2 linked regions of the Homo sapiens genome follow. The protein of the gene in region 1 purifies or fractionates together with the protein of each later gene. This does not show direct contact. Each region holds a gene or a part of one and is shown on either strand. Other genes may lie near its edges.

The links.
Region 2: the proteins of SYTL2 (region 1) and SEPTIN9 fractionate together in Homo sapiens (co-fractionation; one large-scale study listed by BioGRID). This does not show direct contact.

The regions. Positions count from the first base shown.
Region 1 is NC_000011.10:85,723,827-85,727,642, reverse strand, and holds part of SYTL2 (synaptotagmin-like protein 2), read left to right. Parts: coding exon 1-3,611; intron 3,612-3,816.
Region 2 is NC_000017.11:77,287,843-77,291,658, reverse strand, and holds part of SEPTIN9 (septin-9), read right to left. Parts: intron 3,725-3,816; exon of another isoform or gene 3,449-3,724; intron 1-3,448.

The sequences.
Region 1 (3,816 bases):
CTCAAAGACCCTATCACCCAGCAAAATTGAATTGAAGCCTGTGAGATCTGACTCACCATTCCAAGCAGAGGGAGATATGCTGGTTTCTGAAAGTTGCCAAGATAATAATGTGAATATCAAATCCAAATTCATGAATTTGTCCCAAAAAGGCACCCCAAAGGAAGGCCCAGGTATATTGCAACCATTTGAAAGCTATGGCACCCCAAGTCAAGGGAGTAAAAATATGGACTATAGCCAAGATTCAAAAAGCCCAGGAAAAGGGAATGGGGCATCTCCTTCAAATAGTAACTATTCCTACAGTGTTCTCAAGGAATCTGATGCAGAAAACCAAGTTCCATGCAACACTAATAATATTGGCAACTTGGGTGAAGAAGAACCCAAGTTTCATGCTCATGAAGAAAATAGAGGACACTCAGAAGTGAATTTTGACTCTTCAACAGTTGTCAAAGAACCAGGTTTGAAAGATAACATGAATGCAGAGAGAAAGAGCAAAGTAGGAAATACCTATATCCTGAAAGCCTCCTTAGAGCCAGAGAATATTAAGTCAACACCTGGGGTTGCCAACAATGGCTCTCCTTGGAAGAAGCCTGAGGTCCAATTCCAGCAAGAAGCTGGTGAGGTTCCCAAGAACCAAGTGCAGAGAGAGAAATACAAAAGAGTGAGTGACAGAATATCCTTTTGGGAAGGAGAGAAAGCTGGTGCTAAGATAACTCATGAAAAACCCACATCTTCATGTAGCCAGGAACAACCTTCTGCTAAAGCATATCAGCCTGTGAAGAAGTCACAGGGTGTATCATCCATGGACAGTTTATCTACAGACCAGAGTGAATATAATCAGGCCATTCCCAAACGAGTGGTCTTAGATGAGGATGATCAAGCATCCCAGCTCTCCAATTCTTATTCCTCAAATAAATCTAAAGAGACCAAGCCACAAATAGCAGGTCCATCCAGATACTATCTTTCAGCTGAGCAATCAGATAAAGTGTCTCTGTTTCAGAATAAGAAAAATGAGCCTATAAAAAGATCACAAGTGGCAGACAGTTTGCCTTCTAGAAGAAACATTACTTTACCAGCACTGCAACCTCCCTCAAATGTCGGGAGTGAACGACATGCTCCATTGGAGAAAGACAGACCTCTAGTTCGTGAATCAAATGCCAACTTTAAAGTTATGTCCCTAAAAGAAAGAATGGATGAACCCAATGCAGAACAGGTCTATAATCCCTCTCAGTTTGAGAATTTGAGAAAGTTTTGGGACTTAGAAGCTAATTCAAACAGTAAGGATAATGACAAGAATATTACCACCACAAGCCAAAAAAATTCTGCACCTTTTAATAGGCAGAAACACAAGGAATTCAGCGACATTAAATTATCAGGTAAAAATACCCATGAAGCAGAGGTGCTTCTAAGCCCAAAAAAAGTTATGGCAAGAGAGGAAATGGAGAAATTAAATTCAAAGGGCATACTCCAGGTGCTACCAGATGAAATCACATTTCCTTTGAGTCCACTTAGAAAGTATACTTATCAGTTGCCAGGAAATGAGTCATCAAAGGAAAATGTGGAAAAGAATACGGAAGGGATTGTTACTCCAGTGTTTAAGGAAGAAAAGGATTACTCAGAACAAGAGATTCAAGAATCCATAATAAAAACCAATGTTTTGTCTAAAGACTGCAAAGACACTTTTAATGACAGCTTGCAGAAACTGCTTTCAGAAACCTCAACACCAGCAATTCAACCCTCTGGTGGAAAAGTTCATGGAAAACAAGTGCTTGAACCAAGTGTTTCTGAAAATAGGACATGGCCTCAAAAAACAGATTTTGCTGATACTGAGGAAGAAGTCAAAGGACCTGAGAAGATCATTAATGAGCATGTTGACAAAACAGTAGTTCATCCAAAGGTTAAACGGAACTCTTTGACTGCTAGTCTAGACAAACTCCTGAAGGAAGCAACTGGAACTTCACCCTCTCCCTTGCAAGCCAAGTTGGCGCCTGTTATCACTGGAACCAACTCTAAGCTGGAAGAGGGGAGATTTTTTGGAAAAGGGATAGAACAGAGTCACAATACTTCAGCTGATAAGAGAGAAATACTAGCTCCTTTTCCAGTGAGAGATGAAACTTTTGGAAATACAGCTCTCCTCAAGAAAGCTGAAAGTGGTGAGTGCCAGCTAAGCACACAGAATTTGATTCAGATGGCTGCAGAAGATTCTCATCCATTGGATCCAACTTCCCAGCTTTCCAGAAAGGGTTCTTTTGGGGATGTGGCCAGCCCTCCCCAAGATATGCTTTTTCCCCAGGATGCTCATCTTGTTCCCCAGGCTAGGGTACACCCTTCTCAAACGGAAATTTCGGAGACTGTAGAGAAAGTCATTCTTCCACCCAGACCTGTATTGAATGATGTAAGTGCTGCATTACAGAAGCTGTGTGGAGAAGTATGGTTAAGTTATCCAGCTGGAAGGGAAGTAGGTCCTGGAGAAGTGAACCCAGAATTTCCTGAAGCAGTACAGCCAGTATGTAGCCCCCTAAATCCTCCAGGAGTGATATCACCATGGGCTACGATGGACACCATAGTTCCAGACAGGAAGGATTTTTATTCCTCCAATGTAGTTCCTGATAAAACTCATGAAGTTGGATCTTATTTAGCTGCCCAAATGTCTCCATCAGACCAGACGCTTAGCTCATTTGCTTCCATTGTTGCTCAATATGGCAAAGGCCTCCCTCAGGAAGTGGAAGAAATTGTGAGGGAAACAATTGTTCAACCCAAATCAGAGTTCCTCGAATTCAGTGCTGGCTTAGAAAAACTACTGAAGGAAGAAACTGAAACCTTCCCCTCAAAATATGAAAGTGATACAGGGAATCTTTCTCCATCAAAGTTAATAGGTAGTACAGAGGAGCCCAGGCGAGCCACTTCTGAATGCCATCCTGAGGAATTAAAAGAAACAGTAGAAAAGGCCGAGGCTCCGTTAATAACTGAGAGTGCTTTTGATGCTGGTTTTGAGAAACTTCTTAAAGAAATAACTGAAGCTCCTCCTTATCAGCCCCAGGTGTCAGTGAGAGAAGAAACTCACGAGAAGGAGTCCTCACAGTCAGAGCAGACCAGGTTCTTGGGGACAGTGCCCCATTTTTACAGGGCAGCCTCACAGACCTCTGAAATGAAGGATAAAAGTAATGGTTTGGAATCTCAAGTCAACCAATGTGATAAAATGTTGGGAGGAGACGCACTTGTGACTGATTTATTGGTAGATTTTTGTGGTTCCAGAAGTGGAGTTGAGATCCCTAGAACCCCACAACTTTATGTGGCTCATGAAATAGGGACCATTAAAACTGTAACCCCCCCAGAGGACAGGGACAGTGAAAGTGGGGTTGCAGGGGGACAAGGGACTCTTCAGGAACCTGGCTTTGGAGAGGCTTCTGAAGCAATTAGTGTGTCCAGAAATAGGCAACCCATTCCTCTCCTGATGAACAAAGAAAACTCTACAAAAACAAGTAAAGTTGAATTGACTCTAGCATCGCCATATATGAAACAAGAGAAAGAGGAAGAAAAAGAAGGTTTCTCTGAGTCTGATTTTTCAGATGGAAACACCAGTTCTAATGCAGAGAGCTGGAGAAATCCTTCCAGTGAGCATTTAAAATTTTTTAACTCACAGTGAGTCTGCTTTATGGAATGCTGATGTAAAGGATGATTTTTTTTAATTGGGATTAATTTGATATTCTTAAATGATGTTAAATTCTTCTTACCACTTCTGTGTTCCTGAGACTTTCTTAATTAAAAAAATTATTTATATTTTTTAATCAAATGCATTACATAATTCTTAAATGATGT
Region 2 (3,816 bases), on another chromosome or scaffold:
TACAAAAACAAAAACAAAAATTTTTTGAGACGGAGTTTCACTCTCTTTGCCCAGGCTGGAGTGCCGTGGCACGATCTCAGCTCACTGCAACCCCCGCCTCCTAGATTCAAGCAATTCTCCTGCCTCAGCCTCCTGAGTAGCTGGGATTACAGGCATGTGCCACCATGCCCAGCTAATTTTGTAGTTTTAGTAGAGACAGGGTTTCTCCATGTTGGTCAGGCTGGTCTCGAACTCCCGACCTCCTTGGCCTCCCAAAGTGCTAGGATTACAGGCATGAGCCACCGCGCCCGGCTGCTACAAAAATTTTTTAAAAATTAGCCAGGCATGCCAGGCGCGGTGGCTCCCACCTGTAATCCCAGCACTTTGGGAGGCCAAGGCAGGTGGATCACGAGGTCAGGAGTTTGAGACCAGCCTGACCAACATGGTGAAACCCCGTCCCTACTAAAAATACAAAAATTAGCCAGGTGTGGCGGCACATGCCTGTAATCGCAGCTATTCAGGAGGCTGAGGCAGGAGAATTGCTTTAATCCAGGAGCCGGGGGTTGCAGTGAGCCGAGATTGCACCACGGCACTCCAGCCTGGGCAACAGAGTAAGACTCTGTCTCAAAAAAAAAAAAAAAAAAAAAATTAGCCAGGCATGCAGCGCACACCTGTAGTCCCAGCTACTCAGGAGGCTGAGAAGGGAGGACCAATTGAAACTGGGAGGTCGAGACTGGGAGGTCATGATCACGCCACTGCACTCCAACCTGGGCAACACAGCAAGACCCTGTTTAATAATAATAATAATAAATAATGCAAGTGGGTATAAGAATTTATTTATTTATTTATTTATTTATTTATTTATGAGACAGGGTCTCACTCTGTCGCCCAGGCTGGAGTGCACTGGCGCAATCTCGGCTCACTGCAAGCTCCGCCTTCCGGGTTCATGCCATTCTCCTGCCTCAGCCTCCCGAGTAGCTGGGACTACAGGCGCCCGCCACTGCACCCAGCTAATTTTTTGTATTTTTAGTAGAGACGGGGTTTCACCATGGTCTCGATCTTCTGACCTTGTGATCTGCCCGCCTCGGCCTCTCAAAGTGCTGGGATTACAGGTGTGAGCCACCGCTCCCGGCCCTAAGAATTTATTTTATCCCAGCACTTTGGAGGCTGAGGCGAGTGGATCACGAGGTCAGAAGATTGAGACCATCCTGGCTAACATGGTGAAACCCCGCCTCTACTAAAAAAATACAAAAAATTAGCCGGGCGTGGGGGCGGGTGCCTGTAGTCCCAGCTATGCGGGATGCTGAGGCAGGAGAATGGTGTGAACCCGGGAGGCGGAGCTTGCAGTGAGCGGAGATCGCGCCACTGCACTCCAGCCTGGGCAACAGAGCGAGACTCCATCTCAAAAAAAAAAAAAAAAGAATTTATTTTAAGACAGCAAGCTCTAGGGTTGAAGCCAGTCTCCACCTAGCCCCAGGCCCAAAGCTATAAGCATGGCTACTGTAACATCTTTACTCAGGACACCACCCTTCAGGGGCCCAGACCCACACCATCAAGGAGGAGCGTCCACACCAGCAGCTGGGGAGAGGGTGGTTCCCTACAAGATGCAATGTCCACTCTGAAGAGCCATTATAGTGATAATCATGAAATCCATGCCTGAGATCTAATTTCAAGTGAAAAGAACAGAATTCAACATTCATTCTATGGGGAGTATAAAACTCTGAAAATATACGCCTTTCATAATTAAATCAAACCCTATGTCATGTTCCTGAGGAGACAAGCACTGAATGGAACACAGAAGAAATGCTACAGCCAATGATTGTTGAAGTTTTCCTTTCAATTTCCTGTTCATGTTGTTTGGCAATAAGTAATACAGAAAACTGACAACAAAAAGCAAAAGAGAAAGAAAAGATACAGTGTACAGTTTAGATTGCTTTCCTTAAAAAATTAAATAATAATAATAAAAAGCATAGGCCGGGTGCGGTGGCTCACGCCTGTAATCCCAGCACTTTGGGAGGCCAAGGCGGGCGGATCACCTGAGGTCGGGAGTTCGAGACCAGCCTGACCAACATGGGGACACCCCGTCTGTACTAAAAATACAAAATTAGCCGGGCATGGTGACGCAGGCCTGTAATCCCAGCTACTTGGGAGGCTGAGGCAAGAGAATCGCTTGAACCCGGGAGGTGGAGGTTGCAGTGAGCTGAGATCGCGCCTTTGCACTCCAGCCTGGGCAACAAGAGCGAAACTCCATCTCAAAAAAAAAAAAAAAAAAGCATAAATGCAAGCTGGGCGCGGTAGCTCATGCCTGTAATCCCAGCACTTTGGGAGGCCGGGGCAGGTGGATCACCTGAGGTCAGGAGTTTGAAACCAACCCGGCCAACATGGCGAAACCCCATCTCTACTAAAAATACAAAAATTAGCCAGGCATGGTGGCGCGTGCCTGTAATCCCAGCTATTCAGGAGGCTGAGGCAGGAGAATTGCTTGAACCCAGGAGGCAGAGGTTGCAGTGAGCCAAGATTGAGCCACCACACTCCAGCCTGGGTGACAGAGTGAGACTCCGTCTCAAAAACCAAACCAAACCAAACCAAACAAAACAAAAAAAAGAAGCGGCATAATACAAAGTCCCGGCAGTTAAAGCGTTAACCCCCAGCTACCAGGAAGGCTCTGCTATCCAATGACTCATCGCCCCAGCCAAGGTCAGCCACACCTTGGGTCTCTGATGCTGGAGGCAACATGATGCCAACACTGGCGAGAAATCCACCACCTCCTCCTCCCCGCCCCTCGGTGCCGGCCTCTGTGTGCACTTGCAGCTCTTCCACTACCGGTGCCTCCATGGTGTCTACGCCACCGGCTCACCTCCCAGCAATAACCCGACAGCCCGACACCTCTGTAGACCCTGTGGCTACAGAGCTAAAGTTCCCTGTTATTAGTGGGTTTTGCAGACAACCCTCCAAATCCCTCTGGGTTGAGTTAGTCAAGTCCTTAACAAGCTGGAAGATGACAGGGGTTGGATGTAACCCACTTCCAACTGGCTTGGGTTACATGGACATTATTCCTCTTCTGGGATCTGATTTGGGATGGAAACAGGAGCCATAGTTCATGGGAAGGCTGTGAAAGGAAGCCCCGGCCCCAGGGTGCGGATCAGGTTGATCTGCGGAACAAGGCCCCAGGGGCGGCCCACCCGCCTGCTCTGCCCAGCCCTTCCTGGTAACCACACTCACCCGGGGCCCATCTCAAACCTGGCAGGCAATGCTGCTGCTCCCATCTCAGCCGCTGCCCCAACACGCCTCGCCTGGCCAGGACAGGTGCCCAGGCATGGCATTCAGGGACATCCTCGGCTTCCGGGGCCCAACCCCTGGTTCCCAGGTGCAGCGCTGGGAAAAGCAGAGGGCCCCGGCCATGGCGCAGGCCTCGTCACAGGTCATTTAAGCAGCCTGGGAGGAGCCGGAAAGAGAGCAATGCACCCACCTGGACAGAGACTGAAGCCACATCCCCATTGAGAAAAGATGACACTCCTGCCTGGACCCCTTCTCTGAAACCCCAGGCCGGGGTGGGGTAGGAGTCAGCGAGAGAGTCCAGCGCTCCAAAGGGGACTTTCTGGCCCTCCGTGCCCCCTAACCCAGCACTTCTGGGGACCCACACACTCAGGGCAGAGTGGCCATCCAGGGTTCCTCTCACCCAGACACAAAGGCCACTGAAGGCCCCGGGCCAACACCGCTCTGAGGATGACCAGCGACTTGAGTTCCTGCCAGAGACAGCAGGCAGCCTGGGTCTAAGGGCCGCCCAGTGACTTGAAGCTGGGATCATCTTACATTCCCTGCGCCACTCCTGTTTCC